Homo sapiens: one gene and its partner. The protein of the gene in region 2 interacts with the protein of the main gene of each other region in a pairwise test. Each region holds a gene or a part of one and is shown on either strand. Other genes may lie near its edges.

Region 1 (3,653 bases), on a different chromosome or scaffold from region 2:
AAAAAAAAAAAAACTTCAGACAACTAGTTTTTGGTTTTTTTTTTTTTTTTTGGTCTATTGGCTTTCCCTTTTCTGTTGGAAGCATGAGAGTCCTGCAATAAACCAGATAAGGACGATCTTTCATTCCAGCCCATGTGCCTGATCAGAAGAGTGACATATATTTAGTTCTTACATGGAAAGAGAAGTGTTTTTAGGTGTGCCACATGAAGATTTTATTAATTTTGTTTTTATGGGTAATTGCCTTATGCCATTCTTTTTGACTCATGGGCTCATTTGAAAAACAGGGAACTTTTATTCCTCTACAGAACATTGAATATGCCAGGCAAGGTGGCTCATGCCCACAATCCCAACACTTTGGGAGGCCCAGGTAGGCAGATTGCTTGAGTCCAGGAGTTCGAGACCAGCCTGGCCATCATGGTGAAGCTCTGTCTCTACAAAAAAATACAAAAAAATTAGCCAGGTGTGGTGGCACATGCCTGTAGTCCCAGCTACTTGGGAGGCCAAGGCAGGGAGATTGCTTGGCCCGGGAAGTGGAGGTTGTGATGAGCTCTGATTGCGCCACTGCACTCCAGCCTGAGTGACAGAGTGAGACCCCCATCCCAAAGAAAAAGGAAAAAAAAAAAAAAAAATTGAATATCTTTGGCCAATACCCCTGACCAACCCACACAACACACCCTTGTTAATATGACTCCAAGGATCATGGATCCCTTTCTGCAAAAGCCCATCCATTGACTCCACATTAGATGCCCTGATTTAAAATATTATTATGGTTCAATGTAGTCATAGCAGTGAGGGAGTTGTTTTTTTGTTTGTTTTGAGATGGAGTTTCGCTCTTGTTGCCCAGGCTGGAGTGCAATGGTGCAATCTTGGCTCACTGCACCCTCTGTCTCCCAGGTTCAAGTGATTTTCCTGCCTCATCCTCCCAAGTAGCTGAGATTACCGGCACACGCCACCGTGCCCGGCTTATTTTTGTATTTTTAGTATAGATGGGATTTCACCATGTTGGCCAAGCTGGTCTCAAACTCCTGATCTCAAGTGATCTGCCTGTCTCGGCCTCCCAAAGTACTGGGATTACAGGCATGAGCCACCACACCCAGGCCCTAATTTTTGTATTTTTAGTAGAGACGGGGTTTTACCATGTTGCCCAGGCTGGTCTTGAACTCCTGACCTCAGGTGGTCTGTCCGCCTTGGCGTCCGAAAGTGTTGGAATTACAGGCGTGAGCCACCAGACCCAGCCAGCAGTGAGGGAGTTTAAGTCTTGGTTTAAAAAACAATTACGATGCTAACACCCTTCAAATTAGATTTGATGAAAGTTTTATTTGTTTTTCTTTGGTTATTTCAGGCTCGTGCTGTCTTGGAAAGAGAATTTAACAACCTTTTGGTCATGGGGACTGATAGAAGGTTTGATGAAGTAAGTTTTTGGCCTAATGTTCTTTAAATGTCTGAAATGTGTGTAAATGTTTAAATGTGTGTGAAATGTAAGCTGTTATTATTATTATACTTGGGACATCATGTAGCTAGGCAGTCTCTCTGGATGTTAGAAGTCAGGCTTTGCTCTTATACATTTATTCACAAATGAGCCTTTAAAAACTAATACCTGGGCCGGGCACGGCGGCTCGCACCTGTAATCCCAGCACTTTCGGAGGCTGAGGCGGGCGGATCACCAGAGGTCAGGAGTTTAAGACCAGCCCGGCCAACATGGTGAAACCCCATCTCTACTAAAAAACACAAAAATTAGCCGGGCGTTGTGGTAGGTGCCTATAATCGCAGCTACTTGGGAGGCTGAGGCTGGAGAATCGCTTAAACCTGGGAGGTGGAGGTTGCAGTGAGCTGAGATCGCACCACTGCCCTCCAGCCTGGGCGACAGAGAGAAACTCCATCTCAAAAAGAAACCCCCTCCCCGCAAAAAAAAAACCCACAAAAGTAATACCTTCAAGAAGGTAGTTTTGTTTTTATTTTTGCTATTTAATTTTTGACATCCCTCAAAAATGGTTTTCACATCATAAAACATTGGTTGCAGCTTAGGAACAGAGTCTGTAAGTTGGGTTTTGGGGACCAGTAGTTATCCTACCCCAGTCCAGAGTGTACCCCCATACTCCTGTGCATGGGTGGGGTGGCATGTTTCAGAAGTATATTAAAAACACAAAATGTTAATTTCCCCTTAAAACCATGACTCATTTGTTCCACACGATTAGGAGTCTCTTAATTGGACCTTAAGAAAAGTTGAGTTTGACAGAGAGAATAGAAGACCACCTCTAAAGATGAAGCACTTGTTGCTATATCCTGGCATAAGATAAAATTGTTTCTAGTTAAAAATTGTTTGTAGAGCTGCGTGTGGTAGGGGCACACCTGTAGTTCCAGCTACTTAGGAGGCTGCGGTGGGAGGATGGCTTGAGCCCAGGAGTTTGAGGTTACAGTGAGCTATAATCACACCACTGCATTCCAGCTCGGGCAACAGATCTAGACTCTGTCTGTAAAAACATAAATAAAAATGAAAAATAAACTATTTTTAAGATAAATAAAAACGTATTACGTTGCAAGAAAGTGATTCCTGCAAGGTGTAAGAAGTAGAACATGATGCTGTGGAGAAGGAGCACATCCTCATGGCCCAGCACCGACCTCATTTCGCCAGCTGAGGCCCAGCCGGACCATCACCATGCCCCGTTTCACGCTGAAGTTCCAGGTTGGGCAATATATTGTGTGGTCATCAAGAAGGGATTAAATACATGTGGACAAGAATACATTCTCGAGATCAGCAGTCATTTTAAAGGACATGTAACTTTACATCTCTGACCTTTATTTTTTAAATGAATCTTGTTTTTTGTTCCTTAATTTACCAGGATGATGATAAAAGCTTTAGGAGAGCACCTTCATGGAGAAAAAAGTTTAGACCAAAGGACATTCGTGGCTTAGCTGCTGGGTCAGCAGAGACTCTCCCTGCAAACTTCCGGGTGACTTCTTCTATGTCTTCCCCCTCTATGCAGCCAAAGAAGATGCAGATGGACGGTATGTGATGGGTCACACTAACCTGTCACTTGTTGGGAGCATGAGCAGCTTTCTGTCTGGAACATTAATAATGATCTAAAACGGCCTATTTAATATGTTACAAGGCACTTGAGTATGGTTGCATGTCCAAATATAAATGTTTTTAAATTAACTCTAACATTTGTTTATAAAAGTTTAACCATAATAATAGAATTTTTAAAACACGCTTGTCTGGTTGAATCTTAGCATATTTTTCCAACTAATAAAGCTCAGTATTCGTCTGTGTTCTCAGAGAGAGACTGAGGCATACTTGTAAATTTGTGTCTGTGACAGGCCGTGCTAGAAAGCTCTTTCAGGAAATAGTAGTGTAGTAGTAGCTTCCAAACCACATAATTTACTGCTCTCCACACCAGAGAAAATAACTGAGTACATTTTTAAGAACACACAGTTTCCAGCTTGTGTGAGCTCTGCCTATGCTTTCTGCCCTCCCTGCTGCTGCTGTTCCGTGCAGTCACATGTCTACCCATTAGAGGGCAGGGAAGGGAGGAAGGTGAACCTCCAAGAAGTCCCCAGTGGAGCGAGGCAGCTATTGACTATACCAGCCAGAGAGAGAGCATCACTGCCATGATTTCACATGCAGTTTGGGATTTTCCCTTAGACGGCCACTT
Region 2 (3,653 bases):
TCTCAGCTCACCGCAACTTCCGCCTCCCGGGTTCAAGCGATTCTCCTGCCTCAGCCTCCCTAGGATTACAGGCATGCACCACCACCATGCCTGGCTAATTTTTTTTTTTTTTTTTTTTTTTTTTTAGTAGAGATGGGGTTTCTCCATGTTAGTCAGGCTGGTCTTGAACTCCCGACCTCAGGTGATCCGCCTGTCTCAGCCTCCCAAAGTGCTGGGATTACAGGCATGAGCCACTGCACCCAGCCTAAACCAACATTTTTAAATGGTTGTTAGCCACATTTGCAAACTACACAGGAATTTTTTCATATAACTCTATTATAAATTATATAAGTATCTTTACACCAAAGGAATCTTTCGATTGTTCAAATTAGCAAGAATGTTTTCTACTGAGTGTTATTGTAGATGGTAAACAATAACCCTAGGCCTTTAAATGATGTGTTCAATACCGTATTTTGTATTTTTTAAGATTTAGATGTATTTTACAGACTTTGTCCAAACTAGTTTCATTAGATACATCATTTTTTTTTTTTACCAGTTTATTCCATTTTTAAGGTGAAATTTCATTCTATTTCTGAACCAACACTTTTGGTAAAGGCCACAGACTCATTTGTAAAACATAAATGGATGAAATATATCAGAGGAAAAAATAAGATTCAACAGTCAGAAATAAAGTATAAGAGCAATCTGGCCGGGTGCAGTGGCTTATGGCTGTATTCAATCCCAGCACTTTGGGAGGCCAAGTCGGGTGGATCACTTGAGGCCAGGAGTTTGAGACCAGCCTAGCCAACATGGCAAAACCCCGTCTCTACTGAACATATAAAAATTAGCCAGGCGTGGTGGCGTATGCCTGTAGTCCCAAATAGGAGGATGAGGCATGAGAATCGCTTGAATCCAGGAGGTGGAGGTTGCAGTGAGCCAAGATTGTGCCACTGCACTAGAGCCTGGACGACAGAAAAATAAATAAATATATGTATTTATTTCCATCTTTGTACCTTGACTAACATACCTTTATAATGGCCAGAAATGTCATGTTCAAATTTAGAACTGTAAGGCACCCCATACTCCTACGTGGGAAGAACCTGATCCCCTTTTCTTCCCACCTCCAGCACATCCCATGCTTGAAAGGACTATGCATGCATGTGAACACTCTAGCCCACATGTCCAAGTTCTGCCCACATTCTCAGCAAACATCCACTCCTTGGCTAGTCCTTAGACACAGGGATACAACTACTTAGAAAAACAAAACAAAACAGAACAACATACACCAGGTTTGGAAGCATAAGTCCTAGAACAAATGGACCAAGAATTTAAAACTAAGAATAAACATGTTTAAAAAGACAATACGAAACAAGAACCACAAATCCCAAAAAAGAAAAATCAGATATATTACATATAGAAAATATAATAGCTAAAGAAATAACAGATGGAATAAACAGTAGGATGGCTCCAGAGGAAGAACAAATTAATGAGCAGAAAGGCAGATCAATAAACTCTTCCAAAAGGAAACAAAGTTAAAGAAATTAAACCATATGTGAGGAACACTAATAGATAAAGAGGAAAGAAGTAGAAATGCCAACAATCAGAAAACGAGAAAACAAAAACAGAGGAAATATTTGAAGAAATAATGAGCTTCTGGTAATAGCACCCTAGGTGATTCTGATCAACTCTTCCTCTGAGCAAAAAAGAAAAGATGGGGAAAGTTTTAAAAAATCTCCTTGAATATAAATTGTTGAGAACTAACAACTGAAGTTACCAAATGCAGGAGAGGCTGGATGTCCAGGGAGGTGAGTGCAATGGATGAAATCACTTTTTCCATGTAAGTGATTTGATTCCAGAGGGGGAAGCAAAATTGCTGAAGTATAGAGTAACTTTTTGATGGTACTGGGGACAAGGAGAAAGACATGGAGGCTTGGACTTGCCAAGGCAGAAGGGGTCCCTTGGCAGGACACGTGGTCCTGCTTACCCTACTCTCCTATTAGTTTGGGCTCAGAGCCCAAAGGCTTCACCTAAAGGTAATCGTGTCCAGAAGTAAACAGGTCCTCACATGTACTGATTAAGAAACTGAATTGACGTGATCCTGGATTGTTAAGGTCTCCAGGCACCTGGAAGAAGCAAACACACATCCTTTCTTGAAGAAAACATCATCCTAGGCCTCAAATTATCCCTGCAAATAATTCTGCAATATAATGTTTGGTATATAATAAAAATAATTTTGCTATATAATGTTCAGCCTATAATAAAAAATAACAAAGCAAATAGGAAATAAAACATCATTAATGAAAACCAGAAACAACAAACAGTACAAAAAGAACCACAGGAAATCTAGATATTAGATTGTAAGTGTAAACCAAAAATAAAATTCAAAGGCCCCCTGCAACCATCTGAGTGGACTCCCTCCTGGGCCAGGGCACTCTGAAATTTAACCAGAAAGACTGGTTAAGGCCATGATGGGAAGCTGGGGATGGACATGCCTCATGATACCCTCCAGTGTTAACATCAACACAGACCTTAAGTCTGAGAAGAAACATCTACAGTCTATTCTCTCTAGAGCCTACTATTTGCAGGCTTCATCTGTGTGATAAAACCTAGCTCTCCACAACTCTTTATCATAACTCTTTCAACCAACTGCCAATCAGAATATGTTTAAATCTACCTATGACCTGGAAGCTCCCTGTCCCTCTTCAAGTTGTCCCACCCTTCCAGATCAAACCAATGTAAATCTTAAGCGTATCTGATTGATGTCTCATGTCTTCCTAAAATGTATAAAAGCAAGCTGTGCTCTGACCACCTTGGGCACACATTGTCAGGACCTCCTGAGGCTGTGTCATGGGTGTCTAAAAGATGGGTACTTCTGCTCGGTGTTCAAAGAAGCCAACTCTTCCTTAACCTCAACTTCAAAGAGGAGGCATTTAGTAGAAGCTGCTCACAGGGATTTTGTGAAGTCAGCCTAAGGATGGAGCTGATACAAGAAGGGGGCAAAGCCGCGCAAAGAAATAAAGCCAGAGCTCTGATGCAACCAAGATGAGGGGCTGGCCTGCCTCTGGACCCCTCAGTTTGTCAGCCTATACACATGTTGTTATGAAAAGGCCATGTGGGTAGGCTTTTTACAGCTAAAGACACTGGACTAACACAAAGGTTGGAAATAGAAAGGGGATTTTTAAGTAACAAACCTTAAAGTGTGAAACTGGCTCAGCTATAGAAGAGTAAGGAAGACCTCCTCTATCTCATGCTGGGAATTTGGATATCGTTATTATATTGGTTAAAGCACCTTTGTTGTACCTTTGCACCAGACTGTATGACTACCAATAACATTGTACCGGAGAAACTGAGAGGAAAAAAATGCAGCTATCAGTGTTTTCACAACTCCTTGTGGCTTTCACTAAGATTCTACACCCAGGTGTTTTGTGAATATTGGTCTCTGTGCTTTTCAATGTTTTTAATTATCAAAATATAACATATTCAGAACTCTCAGTATTAAAAAAAATTAGGTCTTAAGAAAATACTTAAGGAAAAGTCTTAGATCCTATTTGTTCCTGACCGTTGTTGTAGGGTCTTATACTCTCTTATTATAATGATCAGAAATCATCTGGCCAAACACAGGGACTATAAATTTGGAGGTGAGAGAAGATTAAATAATTTTTGCTTTCAAACTT

What was found. The genes of interacting proteins can lie anywhere in the genome.
Region 1: the proteins of DTNB (region 2) and PPFIA1 interact in binary tests that used the Homo sapiens proteins (3 or more experiments, as listed by UniProt).

What each region holds. Positions count from the first base shown.
Region 1 is NC_000011.10:70,375,190-70,378,842, forward strand, and holds part of PPFIA1 (liprin-alpha-1), read left to right. Parts: intron 1-1,342; coding exon 1,343-1,411; intron 1,412-2,840; coding exon 2,841-3,006; coding exon of another isoform or gene 3,007-3,014; exon of another isoform or gene 3,015-3,282; intron 3,283-3,653. UniProt on the Homo sapiens protein: May regulate the disassembly of focal adhesions. May localize receptor-like tyrosine phosphatases type 2A at specific sites on the plasma membrane, possibly regulating their interaction with the extracellular environment and their association with substrates.
Region 2 is NC_000002.12:25,621,512-25,625,164, forward strand, and holds part of DTNB (dystrobrevin beta), read right to left. Parts: intron 1-3,653.